Homo sapiens: one gene and its partner. The protein of the gene in region 2 interacts with the protein of the main gene of each other region in a pairwise test. Each region holds a gene or a part of one and is shown on either strand. Other genes may lie near its edges. The genes, in order: PTPN5 and SNX4.

Region 1 (3,819 bases), on a different chromosome or scaffold from region 2:
TATATCAATTTCTTTAATATCAGGCTCTGTACTGAGCCTTGGGGGACACACAGATAACTAAGAGCCAGTCCCTGCCCTCCACCCAGCATTCGGCCTAGTGAGTTGAGTGAGAAATGCATTAAAGGCCCACTGAGGCTGTCTTATGGGAGCACTCAGGAGGGCACAAAAACAGAGTCTGGGAAGCTGCACAGAAGAGACCCGAAGGACAAGCAGGAGTTCACCAGATACAGGGAGGACATTCCAGGCAGGGAACACTGCAGGGCAAAGGCCCGGAGAGGTGAAAGCACAAGGTATGCCAGGCAGACGAGGCAGCTCAGTGTAGCCACAGAGTAGACGTAAGAGGGACTCTTGTCACACAGCAGACGGCTTCATGAATCAGCCTAAGACACACTAACTTTGACTCACAGGCCATTTTTTCTCAGGGGGACAGAGGCAGGTATTGCCATGCTAGTTGGCATTTAGAAATCTGTGTGTGTATTGGGGGTTAGTGGGGAAAACGTGACAACGTGGATGGATCTCAAAAACTATGTCTTTTTTTTTTTTTGGAGATGGAGTCTCGTTCTGTCACCCAGGCTTGAGTGCAGTGGCATGATCTTGGCTCACTGCAACCTCCACCTCCCAGGTTCCAGGGATTCTCCTGCCTCAGCCTCCCGAGTAGCTGGGACTACAGGTGTGTACCACCATGCCCAGCTAATTTTTGTATTTTTAGTAGAGATGGGATTTCACCATGTTGGCTAGGCTGGTCTCGAACTCCTGACCTCAGATGATCCACCCGTCTTGGCCTTCCAAAGTGCTGGGGTTACAGGTATGAGCCACTGCGTCTGGCTTCTTAAAAACTATTTCATGACACAAAAGAGCATGTACTATATGATTCCACTTATATGACGATTAGGAACAGACAAAATCCATCTACAATGATAGAAATTGGAATAATCGTTATCTCTGAACTTTTGCGGGTGATGGAAATCTTCTGAGTCTTGCTCTTGGTGATGGTTATATGAGCTCATGCAGTTGTCAAAATGCACTGAACAGAACACTTAAGATCTATACATTGGACTGCTTGTAAAGTAAACCTGAAGAACATGTGTGAGCATTTTTGGTTGTTATAATGACTGAAGGGTGCTCCAGGCAAATATATAGGAGATGGGGCCAGGGATGCTTTTACATCAAAGAACTCTCCCACCCAAAGGCCAGTAGGTCCCTGTTGAGAAATACGGCTGCAAGCTATGGGGAGCCACAGAAGGATGGAAACACCAGAGACTTGGCCACATCTGTACTTTGGTAAGACAGGGCTCTGTGGTGGTGGGAGTATCTTGGGACAGTGATGTGGCACAGAAGGTGGATATATGATTTTCACTGCCACTCCTAGGCCTCGTATTTGCCTAACTCTTAGCCCACTGGCCTGATGCTGCCCCGAAGGGGCCCCAGGAGGTCCCTCTGAGGTACCTCAGATGCTGACCAGCTAGGGAAGTAGCAGAGGCAGCAGATGGCAGTGGGAAATGGCAATGCCTCACCCCCAGCCTCCCTGCCTCATGATAAGCAGCAAGGATGATAGAAGTGATCATCTTCCTCTGAAGTGGAGTCTCAGTGAAGGGGTCTCCCTGAGTGTCTAGAGTCCCTGGAAGCAGGGCTGAACGCTACTGCTGCTACTATAGGAAAGCACTGTTTTACATCATGGGCTAAAGAAGAACACAGCTGACTTGCGTGAAAATACTCACCTGACCCCTGCCTTCGGAAAGCCTTCTCTGACCTCCGTCCTGGGCAGGTGTCTCTCCTGTGTTCCCACAGCCCTACAGAGCACAGTTACTGCCTAGGTTTAAATTCTGGCTCTGACTCTTGCTGTGCGTACCTGAAATAGAGTTACTCAAGCTCTCTGTTTCCTCACCTGCAAATTGAGGATAACAGAAACCGTCTTCACTGAACTGTCACCAAGATTGAGATAATGTAGTAAGCACTCAGTAAGAGTGAGTGCTTATGATGAGCCTAGAATGCATCAGTACAGACCACTGTTGCCAGGTGACTCCTCTGGCACCTCCACTAGACATTAAGCTCCTTGCGGGCAGGGTCCTTGTGGTCGTGTTGATTGCTGAGGGCCTTGTGTCCACCACAGTGCCTGGTACAGTAAATACTTGCATGCTTGAATCAATTCCACCCACTAAGATCTCTCCTGAGAGCTTTCTTTTTCCACCCACAATGCCTCTAAATCACAACAATTCTTCAGAAACGGAGTCAGACTCATTTGTATTCTGTTCCCTCTTCTCTCTTCTCTGTTACCTCCATGGCCATGCAGAACCCAAACAACATTTAGTTTTTAAATTAACAGCTTCTTCCTGGACTCTCTATTCCTAAGACTTCACTCAGTGGTCTTCATACTGGGCACACAAAAATCCTTTTTAAAAAATGCACCCTGCACCTCTCAAAAAGTGAAACACAGAATGATCATACGATCCAGCAATTCCACTGCGAGGTATATACCCCAAAGAATTGAAAGCGGGGGCTCAAACAGATCCTGGCACACCAATGTTCATAGCCGTATTATTCACAATAGCCAAAAGGTGGAAACAGATGAATGGCCAAACAATGTGGTATATCCATACAATGGAATATATTCAGCTTTGAAAATAAATGAGATTCTGATATATGATACCACAGAGACGACCCTTGAAAACATTAGGCTAAGTGAAAGAAGCCAGACAAAAAAAGACAAACATGATGCCACTTACACGAGGCACCTAGAATAGGTGAATTTATGGAGACAGAAAGTAGAACGGAGGTCACCAGAGGCTGGGGGAGATGGGAATGAGGAATTAGTATTTAATGAGTACAGCGATTCAGTCTGGGAAGATAAAAAGATTCTGGAGATGGACAGTGGTGATGGTTGTATAACACTGTAAATATACTTAACGCCACAAAATTATACAGTTAACATTGGTTAAAATGGTAAATTTCGTGTTATGTGTATTTTACCACAATTTAATAAAAGCCTCCCACACCAAACAAACAAAACACTGGAAGGACAGACTTCCCTCTGAAATCTGACAGAGCTGCATGTCCCTCTGCCACCCCTAGGGCTCTGTGACCTTGACCCCCTGGCCCATGATCTATCTTCCTCTCCATCCTCTCCTTGGTTCCAACTCTTGGGTTCCCTGTTCTTTTTCTTTTTTTCTTTTTGAGACAGGGTCTCACTCTGTCACCCAGGCTGGAGTGCAGCGGCGCTATCTTGGCTCACTGCAACCTCTGCCTCCTGGGTTCAAGCAATTCTCATGCCTCAGCCTCCTGAGTAGGAGGGGCTGCAGGTGTGCGCCACCATGCCTGGCTAATTTTTATATTTTTACTAGGGACAGAGTTTCACCGTGTTGGCCAGGCTGGTCTCAAACTCCTGACCCCAAATGATCCCCTGCCTCAGCCTCCCAAAGTGCTGGGATTACAGGCATGAGCCACTGCACCAAGCTCCCTGTTCTTTTTCTACTCCAGACGCCAGGGCCACGACATGTTCTTTTCCTTGCACCCCTCTTTAACCACCTTGATCCCATCATATCTCTTGAGGGTGCTTCAGATGGATGCTTTGAGACTCTGAGATGGAAAAGCTATGTGCCTGGAGATGCTCATTATTGACTATGTGCAACAATAAAGACATAGTTAAATAAAGCAGGGGTCAGCCAACCAAGTATAAACAGAGAAGTCATGACAAAATGTTAAGTGAAAAATGCAGGCTATAAACCTATATGTGGACTAATTTCAACTATTACAAAATACAGATTTACAGAAAACATAGAATAGGGCATATAAAATGATGGTTCATCTTACGTTTGTTCTCTA
Region 2 (3,819 bases):
CTTCAAAGAGAATGTTCTCACAGTCTAAAAGGAAACAGAAACAGATGAATGGATAAACAAAATGCGGCATACACATACACATACAATGGAACATTATTCAGCCTTTAAAAGGAATCAAATCTGATATATGCTACAACATGGATAAACCTGCAGGACATTATGCTAAGTGAAATAAGACAGATACAAAAAGACAAATACTGTATGATTCCACTTATATGAGACACCAGTGTTTACACTGTATTAGGTATTAATAATCTAGAGATAATTTAAAGCAGGGGGTCCCCAACCCCAGAGCCACGGAGTGATACCAGTCCATGGCCTGTTTGGAACCAGGCTGCATAGCAGGAGGCAAGCGACCACCTGAGCTCTGCCTCCTGTCAGATCAGCAGCAGAGGCATTAGATTCTCTTAGGAGCACGAACCCTATTGTGAACTGCGCATGTGAGGGATCCAGGTTGTGTGTTCCTTGTGAAAATCTAATGCCTGAGATGATCTGAAATGAAACAGTTTCATCCCGAAATCATCCTCAGCACCCCCTGCCCTGGTCCATGGAAAAACTGTCTTCCACAAAACAGGTCCCTAGTGCCAAAAAGGTTGGCGACTGCTGATTTAAAGTATACAAAAGGATATGCACAGGTTACATGCAAATACTACACCATTTTATAGAAGGGACTTAAGCATCTGAGGATTTTGGTATCCCAGGGATCCTTAAACCAATCTCACTGAAGATACTGAGGGATGACTGCACTACTGAACTATATACTTAAAAATGGACAAGATGGTACATTTTATGTTATATATATTTCACTACACACACAAAGGAAATAGAAAACATTTGCCATATTTCCCCTAAGTCAGACAAAACCACCATAAGCTTCACAACCAGGGATCTCTTATATGAGTTTTTATTTATTTTTACAGAGTCATAGCCAAGAATCCTAATAGAATTTCTAACACTGAAATAATATGGAGTAGTCAAAAAGAAGACACTTCTAACTGAATTTCTTTTTTTTTTTGAAATGGGGTCTTGCTCTGTTGCCCAGGCTAGAATGTAATGGCACAATCATGGCTCACTGCAGCCTCAACCTCCTGGGCTCAAGTGATCCTCCCACCTCTGCCTCCCAAGTGGCTGGGACCACAGGTGCATGCCACCACACCCAGCTAATTTTTAAATTTTTGGTAAAGACAGGGTCTAGCTATATTAATCCACACTGGTCTCAAATTCCTGGGCTCAAGCAATTCTGGGTTTACGCCTCTGCTGCTAAAGGTGTCGGGATTGCCATTGTAAGCTACCATACCCGGCTTGAATTTCATAATCAAATGGAAAACTTCCACGTGAAATATTAGACGTTATTTCTTACTCTGTATGAATGATATTTTAAAAATTACTTTATGTTATAAAAAAAGTCGATAAATTCACTAGGCAACTATGGAAATAAACCAAACTAAAGAAGCATATTTAAAATCTGCATAACTCAACGCTCAAACTTGGGCATCTATTAATAAAACAGGATACCTAAATCCAAGCATGGGAAGGCAACCCCAAGCTTCACTGCTTTAACATTTCCTCACTCTCTGGAGTTTACTGAAGAAAACACTTTTCCCTTGACATGTAGGATAGAGAACCAAGCTCCCTGAAAATGGCCTGGGAACTTCTCCCACTGAGTTTTAAAAATAAACCAAGGGCCTAGTTTATACATGTGTCCTGGTCACAAGTCTTTCCCCACATATATCTGTGACTTTTCACAGATGTAGCCAGTGGGTAATCTCTGTGAAAAGCACTTTTAAAACTATAGTGCTTGGCCAGGCGCGCTGGCTCATGCCTATAATCCCAGCACTTTGGGTGGCCGAGGCGGGCGGATCACGAGGTCAGGAGATTCAGACCATCTTGGCTAACATGGTGAAACCCCGTCTGTACTAAAAGTGCAAAAAAAAAATTGGTCGGGCGTGGTGGCAGGCGCCTGTAGTCCCAGCTATTCAGGAGGCTGAGGCAGGAGAATGGTGTGAACCCAGGAGGTGGAGCTTGCAGTGAGCCACACTCTAACCTGGGCAACAGAGCGAAACTCGGTCTAAAAACAAACAAACAAACAAACAAAAACTACAGTGCTTATTAACTAAGTAGAGACATTGCTGCTGGTTTACTACTTTCAGAATGTGTGTTGCTCACCATGATGGCTGATTTATTGCAATGAAATAACTGGAGTAGAAAGCTGATTATAAAAATGATCCAAGACTAATGCAATCAGGTACAGAATTTTCCTCACAAGTACTCACTGTAAGCATTAAAGAATAAAGTACATCAAAAGCTCCCTGTTAGGCGAGATGCACTGGTTCTAAGTGGGTAAGGCTTTTCAAAGTCAACTAAAATTTCTGCAAAGTACCTTGCAAAGTTAAACCTGATAAAGGTCACTGCATGTTTTTTCACTTGGACTTAGAAACCAGATGATAGACTAGGCATGGTGGCTTACCCCTGTAATCCTAGCACTTTGGGAGGCGGAGGTGGGAGGATCACTTGAGTCCAGGAGTTTGAGACCACCCTGGTCAACATGATGAGACTATAAACAAAATTAGCCAGGCATGGGGGCACATGCCTGTGGTCCCAACTACTCAAGAGGCTGAGGCAGGAAGACCACTTGATCCCAGGAGTTTGAGGCTTCCATGAGCCCTGATCATACCACTGCACTCCAGCCTGGGAAACAGAACCAGACCTTGTCTCAAAAAATAAAAATTAATAAAAACAATTTTTTTGAGATGGAGTCTTGCTCTGTCACCCAGGCTGGAGTGCAGTGGCGTGACCTCGGGTCACTGCAACCTCCGATTCCCTGGTTCAAGCAATTCTTCTGCCTCACCTTCCCGAGTAGCTGGGACTACAGGCGTGAGGCACCACACCTGGCTAATTTTTGTATTTCTAGTAGAGATCGGGTTTCACCATGTTGGCCAGGCTAATCTCGAACTCCTGACCTCAGGTGATCCACTGGCCTTGGCCTCCCAAAGTGCTGGGATTACAGGTGTGAGCCACCGTGCCCAGCCCAATAATTTTTTTTTTTTTTAAAACGAAACCGGATGATACTGATTACACCAGAGAAATGTTGGCAAAATTTCTTATAATTCTATACAGTACATGGTTTTAATGGCTTACATCATTTTGTATCAAGATAATAATAAAAGAATTATAAAGTTACTCACAAATTATTCCCCTGTAAAAGGTTCAGCCGTCCTGAGTATTGTAACTGGAACTGATTCTACAGGAGTGAGTTACTCACTCAGAGTGAGTGCTTGTGAGGAACATTCCGTGTTGCTACAGTATCATCAGAGGCCAAAAGGAAAATACTCACCCCAGTTACCAGTTCCTCACACTGCTGCTTCTTGGATGCTAAGTCCTGAGCAGCCATCTCCAAGTCATACTGCATAAGTTCATGTTTCCTGCACACAGCCCTACAGATGAAAAAATGTGCTGCCATTTAACTTTTCCTTTAACATGTCAAACATTTTTTTCAAGGGTAGAGGAGAACCATTCACAATGTCTCGCTAGGGCAGAATGTGTGTGCCCAGAATTTTCAAGTTTAAAATGTAGTAGCCCAACATTAAAAATGGAATCTAATGGAATCTAGCAGAACCTAACCATAAAAACTTCATATATTCTTTTTTTTTTTTTTTTTTTTTTGAGACAGAGTTTTGCTCTTGTTGCCCAGGCTGGAGTGCAATGGCGCGATCTCGGCTCACTGCAACCTCCGCCTCCCGGGTTCAAATGATTCTCCTGCCTCAGCTTCCCTAGTAGATGGGATTACAGGCATGCGCCACCACACCCAGCTAATTTTGT

The links.
Region 1: the proteins of SNX4 (region 2) and PTPN5 interact in a two-hybrid assay, tested with the Homo sapiens proteins (one large-scale study listed by BioGRID and IntAct).

What each region holds. Positions count from the first base shown.
Region 1 is NC_000011.10:18,781,701-18,785,519, forward strand, and holds part of PTPN5 (tyrosine-protein phosphatase non-receptor type 5), read right to left. Parts: intron 1-3,819. UniProt on the Homo sapiens protein: May regulate the activity of several effector molecules involved in synaptic plasticity and neuronal cell survival, including MAPKs, Src family kinases and NMDA receptors.
Region 2 is NC_000003.12:125,453,932-125,457,750, forward strand, and holds part of SNX4 (sorting nexin-4), read right to left. Parts: intron 3,435-3,819; coding exon 3,335-3,434; intron 25-3,334; coding exon 1-24. UniProt on the Homo sapiens protein: Involved in the regulation of endocytosis and in several stages of intracellular trafficking. Plays a role in recycling endocytosed transferrin receptor and prevent its degradation.